Linked DNA regions of Homo sapiens. The protein of the gene in region 2 purifies or fractionates together with the protein of the main gene of each other region. This does not show direct contact. Each region holds a gene or a part of one and is shown on either strand. Other genes may lie near its edges.

Region 1 (3,647 bases), on a different chromosome or scaffold from region 2:
TGCACGGGCTCCAGGCTCTGGGGAGGTGCCGCCCTTTTCCTCCATGCTCACCTTGTCCCAGTCCACCTTCTCCACGTCCACCAGGATCCGCATGAGCTCAGGGATGGAGAGGGCGGGGTGGGTGTCGTTCAGCTGGATGGCCACCTGAAGGTCGCACAAGGGGTGCCATTCAGTCATTTCATCCCACGTGGGCACCCACGGTTGTTGGCATACGAAGCTCCCCAAGTGAAGGAGCCAGCCCAGCCCACCCCACCCCCGAGAAGCCTGGAGAACAGGGAGGGGTTCTGTGGAGGGAGCAGGGAGGACAGTCGGGCTCGCACTGTGGCAGGTGTGCGCTGTGCCCGATGTGCCTGCTGGTGAGTGCCCTACAGCTGTGTGCTCTGCTGCGGGTATGTGCTGCAGCCGGAGGGGAGGAGCCGTGGCCACCGGGGCTGGGGGCTCTCTCACTGGAACTATAGGGCTTTGTTTGGAATAACCCCATTTAGCCTGCCCAGCACATCTGACTTTGCACAGGAGCCTTTCACCATGTCCCTTGCTGACCTGACTCCTAACAAGGCCGGTGGCCCTTGTTCTGGAAGGGAGGGCCCAGGTGGGATCCTGGCCCAGAATGACGAGACCCCAAGACAAGGGGCATGTACCATTCCACTCTAGCCCCTTTTGGGACATGAGAAAGCAACCTCAAGAGCCTGAAGGCGCCCAGCCCCTGGCACTGAGATCCCTCCCAGGGCCACCATGCACCTTGTCTGGGAACGTCTCGAAACAGGTTCTCACAGGGTCCCGGCAGCCGAACTTGGACGACTTGAAGCGGCGGATGATGTCCTGGAGCGTGGCGGCCACCACGAAGTACTCCTGCTTCAGCCGCAGCTCCTTCCCCTCAAAGAACTGCACACAGCAGAGCAAGCTGGAGGGTGCAGGCTGGGCCATTCTCCTCCCCCAGGAAGCCCAGGTCAGCGACCTGGCTCAAAGGTGCAGGCAGAAGGCCGAGAGGAGCCCAGCCCAGCTGCCTGACACTGGGGCCTGCCTGTGTGCCCTCAGGTCACTGAGGAAGGTAACCCCGCCTGTGGGACACACCCCGGGACACAGTGTCCATCCGTCAGAAGTACAGTGCCAGCGCTGCTCAGGAGCTGCACTGTCCAAGCACAGGCCTTCTGGAACATTCTGTACCTGGGGCTTGGGGTCTGCCAACAGTCTCATGGGGACAGGGGAGTGCACTCTTTGATGAGCCTTCCGGCACCCAGGCCTTTGCTCCTGTGTGCACAGGTTACTTTCATAAAACAAAAAGCTCACTTTTAAACATGCTCTGCCCACTAGGGCATCTTCTAAGGACTTGTCAGGCAACAACAACAAAAAGAAAGCCACTGGGCACTAAATGCAGGTGGCAGTGGGGAACATGGCTGCGACACCATCACCTAGTATGGGAAGGGCATGTGCCAAGGACCTTTCAAATGTCCCCAGGCATCAATGCCAAGTAGGCGCTACGGTCCCCTGGACAGACAGATCACCTGCTTGGGGAAGTGGCACTGCAGGCTAGAACAGCACACAGACTGGAGGGCTGACGGGCTCCAGCTGGCCCCAAGGAGCGGCTGTGTGTTTATGAGGGGAGTGGATAAGAGGGGAAGGTGGCAGAGAGTGTCCTCGGAGAGAGGACCACAGAGCTGCCAAGAGGCACACGAAGAGCCGCTTGGGCTTTATGGAGGACAGTGCACCCTCTCCTCCCCAAGGGCATCGTGTGTGCACCTAAGGCGAGAGGGCCACCAGGTGGCTGCTTGCCAAGGCCAACAGCAGGCCCCACTGGGGAGCCCGGCCAGCCAGCCCACCTCTCTATGCCAGAAAGCGATACGGCCTGAGCAAGAGTGCCCAGGCCAGCTACTCACGTTATCATTTGGATACAGGACCCTGGAGATGTTCTCAGCCAAGTTCCGGTCCAGGACCGCCTCGATGTAGTCTCCCACGTTGACTAAGAAGAAATGGAGCGGGGTCAACACACACATGCCTCCTGGCACCAGCACTGCAACCGCTCAGGGGCCTACTTGCAAAGGCCAAGGAAACTCGCTCGAGCACAGGACTCCCCCAGCCGCTGCATTACTTCCCCTCACCCCCATCCCTGGAGGTAAACGTGATCCCTCCTGCAGCTCCCCTATGTACCGCACACAACTCCATCCCCCTCACTCCTCCCCAGGGGCACATGATCTGCACAAGGTGACCCTGGGTGCCCAGGGCCCAGGTGTCTTGGTCGCTCTGCCTGTAGGCCCTTCCCGGGCAGGCCCCACACACAGGTAAGCTGCACCAGCCTCGCTCTTCACTGGGACGCAGGGACACCCTAGAGGAGGGCCGCGCGGCCTCCAGGACAGTGAGCCACAGGGCGCGGTAAAGGCTGTGGGCGAGGGTGTCTGGGACCAGCCACCCACATGGACACAAGGGTGCCAAGAACCACGGAACGTACAGTCCTGCAGCTTGAAGTCGTTGGGAGCCTTGGCGGACCACAGCCGCATGGTGTTGACGGTGTTGTTCTTGTAGCCGGGCACTGGGGTGTCGTAGGGCATGGCCAGCACCACCTGGCCACAAAACGGGTTGCTCAGGACGGAGTGGCAAGGGCCCCCGCCGGCCCCTGTGCCTCTCCCCGGCCCAGCCTCCTCCTGGGCACCTGGCGCCCTGCTGGCCCCCCACCGTCTCCCCCTTCTGCCCAAACACATCCACCCAGCCCATGCTCGGCACCACAGTCTCCGTCCACGCCCTCCCCTGTGGTGCCCACATTGTCATCCTGAGAGGACCACCCGTCCCACCACCCTCCCCAGACCAGACCTATCTTCTCACTTGACCTTCCTCAGGAATGGCTTTGACTGAAGAATCATCCCCATCCCGACTCCCTGAGGTGCTGCAGCACCAACCCCCACCTCCCTCCTTACCCTCTGCCCTCCGCGCCTCCCCTCCTCAGTCAACTCTGCTCTAGCAACTCCAACACGCAGATGCTTGCCCCGCAGATCACCTCTCTCAGCTCCACCTGCGGGAAGGTTGCTCCTGCAGCTGCCTTGCCTGCTACCCTCCATGTTCCCAGCCCCCCAGCACAAGCCCAGCTGCGCTCCCTCCACCCCAGCCTGGCTCCCTCTCTCCTTGACAAGCCCCCAGGTTCCCCTGCATCCAGAGACATCAGCTCCGCTACCACCAAGGGCAGGAGGGGGCTCACAAAGCTGAGGCTCACCTGTGGTCCCAGCTCCCCGGCAGGCGCACTCAGGGATGCTTGGGTTCATCCCGGCACACACGTGCCTGTGGCACTGCCAGTCAGCTCTGACAGCCACACAGGCGGCGCACCGGGGCCACCAAGACTAAAACCCCAGTATCCCTTTCCCTTCCTCTCTCCTGTCAACCCTTGCCCCTGCCCCACAAGGCGACACCCAAGTGAGCGACAAGTCCCCGCCAAGGCATTCTAGCCCCTTCCATCCTGGCCAGGCCTCGGGGCTAAGCCCATCTTCACAGCCTGCCTGGAATGTCCCGGTTCTCCAGCATCCCCACTCACACTGACATGCTCATCCACAAACACATCTACAGCGCCGGTCCCCTACCCTGCTCTTGCAAGTTAAATACAACTTTTCAGGGCATTTTCAGCCTCCATGGCATGGCCCCAGCCACTCGAAGCCCATGTATTTGAT
Region 2 (3,647 bases):
ACATGAGGCCATAGGACCAGCCTCCCTGGATCCGAAAGGGCCACTCACTCCCTCCAAATGCACTCAGCCTGCAGGGGATACAAGGGACCAGGGAAAGAGAAAGACTTGAGGGCCTCTGTCTAAGGGGCTGGCCATCTGTGCTAGGACAAGTTGCTGCTTCTGCTCCAGGAAGCCCAGATAGGACTGGACTGGACTTAGACCACTTACCCCAGAAGTCCAAAAACCCAATCTCTGCATGTCTCTGAGTGGTCAGGGGGCTGGGATTCTAAAGCTGCTGGTCAGTCCCTAACTCCAGCCTACCCTGATGGGCCAGGTAAGCCAACTCACCCTCAGTCATCTTCTGGGACACATGAAGCAAACAAAATAGCCCTGTGGTTCTGTCTTCACTTTTCAGACAATTGCCCACGGCTCAACAAGAGCTAGTGGGTTAATCCCCTAATTTCCAGTAACCTCAGGCCTTCAGGACAGAGTCCATGGCCTCATTTCTGAATCTGCTTTGTCATTGTTTGAGCCTGTTACTGGCATGAGACAACGGTGGGGGAGGGGGTATGTCACAGGCTCCTGAGTCAAAGCTCCTAGTTATACATCTAGGTCTAAACACGTGGCTGTGGGACCCTGTGGAAGTTATCCAGACTCTCTGTGCTTTGCTTTCCCCCATCTATAAATGGGATATAAAAGGTACTACCTCATCATGTTGCAGTGAAGAAAAAACGAGATCAGTTATTAGCTGGGTCCCTCGCACATTACAGGTGCTTAGGAGACATCAGTCCTGCTCTAACCCCTGCCACATGCCTGGCCTGGGTGGGGCTTTCTGGAGACCCTGGCTCAGGGCACTGGCTGCCTGTGAAAGGGGGGTCCAGGAGCCCAGGCCCACAAGGAGCCCTGAGGCCTGTTGAGATGTGCTGACCTCACCTGGCACAGGCAAGGGGAGGGAGGGGGAGCTGGTCAGGGTCCAGCTGTTGGGGGAGACGAGTGAGGGAATTCACTCTTGACGGGGGTGCCTTTTCCACTAAATTAACATTGCCCCAGTCTGAGGGAGCAGCAGGAGAACACCATGCCCATCCTTACATCAAGATCCAACCTCCAGCACCAGGAAGCCCCTGCCTCCAGCTGGCCATGATGATGACAGGACAGGCTAAATGAGAGGGACCTGGCTTTGCCCTGAGGGTTGGTGGGTGGGGAAGGCGATCAGCAGCCAGGCGTCTGGGGAAGAGGAGCATGGCCACCAGGTGCCTCCAGGGTGAGACCAGGCCCAGCTCCCCCTGGCTCTAAAATACAAGCTTCCTGGGAACCTCCCATGGGAACTCGCTTCTTCCGAAATGGCCGTAGCATGCTGTCTTCTGGTAGATGGGCTTCTTCAAGTCCAAATCCCTGCATGTCCAGCAGAAAGGAAGGGCATTGGAAGATGGAACAGGAGCAGGGTTTCTTTCTCCATTTCAAGGACAGGAGGGAGCAACGAACTGTAACACAGCCCTCCTCGCATGGCACTACGCCTCCCCACCGCAGTTGCGCGCACCCATCCTATCTGTGCCATACCCTGGTCTCGTTTTATAGCCCCACGGATGCTTAGAGGTTCAGGGACCAGGATCTAACTCCAGCCTTCCGGTGCTTTTCTCCTCCCACTCCACTTACCTGGCCCAGGCCAATGTTGACACCACTAAGCTCTAGAAACGGAATAGACTTGCTGACTTGATTCCCAGCCATTTGAGCTATTTGGCCTTATATTAATAATTATTTTCCTAAGATCCCCGCCTGCCTCCCAGTTGCTCAGAGATGGCCCCACTGGAGTTGGTGTTGACTGGGCCAGCAGGAACCTGGGGCAGCCTCCTTTAACCTGACAACCAGGCTTTCTGCACTGGGGATGCACTGTGCTGTACCAAGAGCTCACAGACCCTCCCACTTCTGAGAGGCAGAAACATCCTCCTTTCTGCCTCCCTTTCAGGTGAGGTGAGCATCTGGGCAAGGAAGGAGCAAGGTCCTGTGTAATAGCAGCGCATGGCACTTTACCTGACAATGACGCCCGGCCGGAGGTCGAAGTTCTTATGCACCACATCCAGCAGCTCTCGCTCTGTCTTCTGAGAGGTTCCGTAGGTGAAGATGGAAATGGACAGCGGCTCGGCCACACCAATGGCATAGGAAACCTTCCAGCAAGGTGCAGCGTCAGGGATTGAAGCCTCTGTGTGGGCCCTGCCCCTTTCAGAAGCTTTGCCCTTCTTCTGAAGGGACCAGCGGGGACCACATGCCTCTTGCCCCACATGCTCCCCTGCAATTTTCCTGCTATCTTCACCGAGGGCAGTTCTTCTACACGCCTCTCTCCCTGAAGATTCTGGTTTTCCCTCCCCTAGGTTTTCAGAGCCCTGGCCACAGTGCCCAACACAATCACACAATCACAACCTTTGGCAAAGCATGCAGCTTTCCCACCGGGCCAACATCCCCTCACTCAGGGCAGAACTGGGCAGGGGTCCTCCACTGCAACAGGACGGTGGTGGGTGGAGGGGGCTTACCTGGACAAGCACTCTCCGGCAGAGCCCTGCTTTCACCAGAGACTTGGCCACCCAGCGGGCAGCATATGCAGCTGAGCGGTCTACCTTGGTGTAGTCCTTCCCAGAGAAGGCCCCACCACCATGAGCCCCCCAGCCGCCATAGGTGTCCACAATAATCTTACGGCCAGTGACACCCGCATCCCCCTGCAGAGGGAGAGAAATCAAGATAAGAAGCAGAGCCAGCCCCTAGATGCTGGAGGGGGCTGAAGTACTGTGATGGCAGCTGAACTGCAACTCAGGAAGGATGTCCTGGGGCTGCCCACAGACATTTTCCTAAGACCCCTTAGCCCAGAACTCTGGACTCCACTCCCAGCTCAGTCACTGACAACATATTGAAAACAGGTAACCTGCCAAAGCTTCATTAGCAAGTGCAGAAGGTGGGCCAGGGGTTCTCTGGGGTCACAGCCACTCCCTAATGCCTTTGTTACTGAGTCCATCACAATGGAGAGATCCAACTGCAGGCAGGAACTGCACTGTCATAAATACAACCCTGGCTGGTGCCACCTAGCAAATGCCATGCTGCCCACTTCCCAAGTGTCCTCTGGGCAACACCAGTCAATAGTGATGTCTTTAAAAGGGTGGGAGTTCTATGTTAAATGATTTGGGGAAGTCTGCCTGCTCTACTCCCCCTTTTAGAGATCCACAGTTCATACTAGTATGTCTAGGCTTTGAGAAGTCCTGCAAGAAAAAACAATAAGTGTTACCTCCTTCTACTCTGTGTTTCTACACTCTACTTGCTACTGGAACCCGGGATGGAGCTCAACTCTGGCAAAGCACACACGGCTGAGGGCCCAGGCAGTGGGCAGCAGCCTCACAGCAGTGCCCTCAACCTCCACCTCCTCACACTTGCAGTACAAGAGAGGGGGCAGTGGTGCCCTGTCTAAAACACCCTGTCCCACTCTGGTGCCCACAACAGCCAGAGGCAGCCTGTGGTGAAGATCTGGAAACAGCCACCCGGGAACAGCTGTCCACGTGCAAATGCTGCAGTGGGGAATGTGCACCAGAGCAGGGTGAGGTGCAGCAGCCGTGGGTAAGGTCGATGGTCACTTGAGATGGCAGGAGTGGGAGGGCCCAGTGGCGCTAAGTGGAGGAATCCTAGGGACA
Region 3 (3,647 bases), on a different chromosome or scaffold from region 2:
AAAGGAAAATGTAGAAAAACCTAAAACAGAATTCCTGGACTAGAGTGTCTACCCTTGCATCTGTCAACATTTCAATCATATGAGAGCCACTTTGAGATTAAGCAGACTTAAGCAATCTAGTTCAATAAGAAAAATTTAAAATGTTCACAGATGAGGATGTCAGACTATTTTTAAATGTGTCTAAGAAATCATTGACCTTTCTGGTAAACCAACTCTTAATAATCTACATGGTATCTTTGCGACCTTTAGATAAGGTTTAAAAGCCTTTACTCCTCAAGTCCACTAAGGTTTTTCCCAATATGCACCAATGCCTCTACAGTTACTAAAAAAACACTTTTATTCTTTGAATTATATTTATATGAATTTGTGAGTGTGAAAGGACAATTATTGCTAAAAATGTAAAATTATCCATAAACTACGGCAAAATTAAGTGAGTTCTCGTTTTTGTGTCAAAAAATAGAATGTCTCTTTATACTTCATTGCATTTCAGAATGGTTTTGAAGTGGCTTTAAAAAAGTTTTTAAGATACATTTAAATATGGAAGCAAAGAAATTGAAAAAGAAAAGCTAAAAAATTGGGTCCAAATTTAACTCTGATCTTCCTAGGATCTGATTCAAGGATGGAAACCCAATCTGTTTTGTGATTCATTGCTAGAACAAAGAGGGAGAAGTGGGAGAACCACAGGCTGAGGAAAATTTTTCCAGACAGATAGTGTCACTTCATGTATGACAACATTTCTAACAATATTCCTCACAGAAATTATAAAGGTGAGTTTTATAGGGTTAACACTGCAAATATTCTCTTCAGTTAACCCATTTATGCCTAGTGTTCCATTATTGGAACGCTAAGCTTGTGGGAGTTCTTCATATCCTGCTGTTTAAGGTCATCGCCAAGGTCTGATTTTTCACACAAAAAATTTGCTACCTCTGGCATAAAAGCAGGAATAGTATACTGGCAAAGCACAGTTTAGTACAAAGCAATTCCACAAGCGATCAAAAGGATATGAGCTCACTCATCATCTGGCCAGCCCCTCCTGCATAAGTATTTACTACTGTCAAGCTTTTGATAGGTATATATCAAGCAGAAACGTGTGGCAGTTATACAAGAACCTGGAAGTAGATACATCACACTGTGGAAGAAAAGCAGTCATGTAAGCTTTAATCACTTGCAGTGCTACCAGAAGGGCTGGCATCCTCAGGAGCCTGACTATGCTAGACTAGCTATCTGAAAAAAAAAAAAAAGTAAAAAAAAGTTTTTACTTCTATACAGATAGCCAAAGAGGTATCAGGCCTAGATTTTCATCAAAAATGGTTCTAGCAAGTTCTTACAAGGAACAACTAAATAATATGTAGGTTCTAAAGAATAATGTAATAATTAGGTCAATTAGATTTATCTATTTTCCCCCCTTGGTAGTACCTTTTAATTCCGTATTTTGGAAAAATTTCTCACTTCCAAGGCCGTGAAACTTAATGATCTTCCAAAGGGCTGAAATTCAACATATTCTTTTATAAAAAAGAACTTTCTTCAGCCTTCCTGAGAAAACCAGGATTTACAATTTTAACAATTTATGTGATTTTAGAATATCCACTTACGGGCCAGACGCCATGGCTCACATCTGTAATCCCAACACTTTGGGAGGCCGAGGCAGGCAGGTCACTTGAGGTCAGGAGTTTGAGACCAGCCTGGCCAACATAGTGAAACCCTGTCTCTACTAAAAATAAAAAAATTAGCCAAGCATGGTGGCAGGTACCTGTAATCCCAGCTACTCAGGAGGCTGAGGCAGGAGAATCGCTTGAACCCGGCAGGCAGAGATTGCAGTGAGCAGAGATCACGCCACTGCACTCCAATCTGGGCCACAAAGAGAGACTGTCTCAGAAAAAGAAAAAAAAAAAAAAAAAAAAAAAGCATATCCACTTATGGCTGTTTATTTTCCTAGTTGTACATGTGAACAAAAAATACTTTTCCAAGAAAGAAAGTCAACTTAGGAACCACAGAGGGAATCGCTGGCCCATGAGACAATGTCCTGGAGACATATTTGACGGGAAATTGGTCTAGTCATAGTTGAAGAGCAATCTCACCTCTGCACATTTATGGACAGTGTCAGGACCTACTCCACCATCGACCTCTATATCCAAAGATGGGAACTGGGTCCTCAACCAGTGAACCTAGATATATACATGAGGAAATAAGTAACTCCTAAAGTGGGTATGTTGGTGGGGGTGGGGGTGGGGGACAATCAAACAAAAAAATCCAACAGCAAATATTAGCAATTAAAACTCCAATTGTCTCACACAATAACTATACCAATACAACATATTACTGGGGAACACTTGGTTTTTAATAGCAAGCTTTGTTCTATTTGGCAAACAGCAATCTGTATTGTCTTTGCAGAGACTGTCATGTAAACAAGACAGACAAATCCTCAATAGTCAATGACAACTTCCAAGAGATCTAAAAGTTAGAGATAATAGTTTCAAAAGGAAATTTCAAGACTTCCAGGCGTGGTTGGCTGCCACCTGTAATCCCAACACTTTGGCAGACCAAGGTGGGAGGACAGCTTAAGCCCAGGAGTTCAAGACCAGCCTGGGTACGTAGTGAGACCTCCTCTCTACTAAAATGTGTAAGAATTAGCCGGGCATGGTGGTATGCACCTGTAGTCCTAGCTACTCAGGGGGCCGAGGCAGGAGGATCTCTTGAGTCCAGGAGGTCAAGGCTGCAATGAACCCTAATTGAATTACTGCATTCCAGCCCAGGTGACAGAGCAAGACTTTGTCTCAAAGAAAGAGAAAATTTCAAGATAAAGATGTAATACTTCTCTGATTTCCAAATCAGAAATCTATTACAGCATTTATTATACTGTATTAGAATGATCTGTAAGCATCCCCATCTCCTCACCTTCAGAACAGGTTATGCCTAAATATACAAGCCTTTCAATAAATGCTTACTGAATGAACACACTGTAAAAGCCTCACCCCAAAATCAAATACTTCTTTTACCTTTGGCATCATATCTTCCATGAATTTCTGCCCTCCAAACCCCGGTTCCACTGTCATAACCAAGGCCATATCTATCTGATTAGCCCATGGTGCCAAATACTCAACTGAGGTTCCTGGTTTGATGGCAAGGCCAACCTGTAACAGACACAAATATGCTATATCACATTTACAATTACTTCTGTATTATATTATTGTGGCATAGCAGGCCCAGTAGAAATATCTGTTCTTATTTTTTAAAAGTTAACAAGACTATTAAATGTAAGTATTTTCAACAAGCAGTAGCTTTCAGAAAACTTTAGTGGAATACATAAATGCTATGTGACAAAGAAGTTAAATCCTGGCATCATAGCTGAAGAACAGCTGCTTAAGTAAGGTATTCTTTACCTGCAATGGGCCCTGACTGTGCCACTGCACTTCAGCCTGGGTGACAGAGCAAGACTGTATCAAAAAAAGAGAAAATTTCCTGTTTCCCGCAAATCTTCCCAACTGAGAGTGAATGTTACAAAACACTCTCATCACGATTTCTTACCTTCATCCCATTCTCCCGAATGTCTTTAATCAAAGCCCCTGGGTTCTCAGTAGCCTCGAGATGAAAGGTGTACTGATTGGCTCCTGCTACAGCCATTGGCTTTACCCACTGTTCTGGCTTGG

The links.
Region 1: the proteins of MAT1A (region 2) and PYGB fractionate together in Homo sapiens (co-fractionation; one large-scale study listed by BioGRID). This does not show direct contact.
Region 3: the proteins of MAT1A (region 2) and RPE fractionate together in Homo sapiens (co-fractionation; one large-scale study listed by BioGRID). This does not show direct contact.

Annotation. Positions count from the first base shown.
Region 1 is NC_000020.11:25,275,554-25,279,200, reverse strand, and holds part of PYGB (glycogen phosphorylase, brain form), read right to left. Parts: intron 2,556-3,647; coding exon 2,444-2,555; intron 1,958-2,443; coding exon 1,875-1,957; intron 883-1,874; coding exon 739-882; intron 145-738; coding exon 52-144; intron 1-51. UniProt on the Homo sapiens protein: Glycogen phosphorylase that regulates glycogen mobilization. Phosphorylase is an important allosteric enzyme in carbohydrate metabolism. Enzymes from different sources differ in their regulatory mechanisms and in their natural substrates.
Region 2 is NC_000010.11:80,272,513-80,276,159, forward strand, and holds part of MAT1A (S-adenosylmethionine synthase), read right to left. Parts: intron 2,688-3,647; coding exon 2,505-2,687; intron 2,142-2,504; coding exon 2,008-2,141; intron 1,372-2,007; coding exon 1,269-1,371; 3' UTR 1-1,268. UniProt on the Homo sapiens protein: Catalyzes the formation of S-adenosylmethionine from methionine and ATP. The reaction comprises two steps that are both catalyzed by the same enzyme: formation of S-adenosylmethionine (AdoMet) and triphosphate, and subsequent hydrolysis of the triphosphate.
Region 3 is NC_000002.12:210,015,991-210,019,637, reverse strand, and holds part of RPE (ribulose-phosphate 3-epimerase), read right to left. Parts: coding exon 3,526-3,647; intron 3,435-3,525; coding exon of another isoform or gene 3,381-3,434; intron 3,132-3,380; coding exon 2,997-3,131; intron 2,166-2,996; coding exon 2,079-2,165; intron 1,849-2,078; coding exon of another isoform or gene 1,751-1,848; intron 1,486-1,750; coding exon of another isoform or gene 1,420-1,485; exon of another isoform or gene 1,417-1,419; intron 1-1,416. UniProt on the Homo sapiens protein: Catalyzes the reversible epimerization of D-ribulose 5-phosphate to D-xylulose 5-phosphate.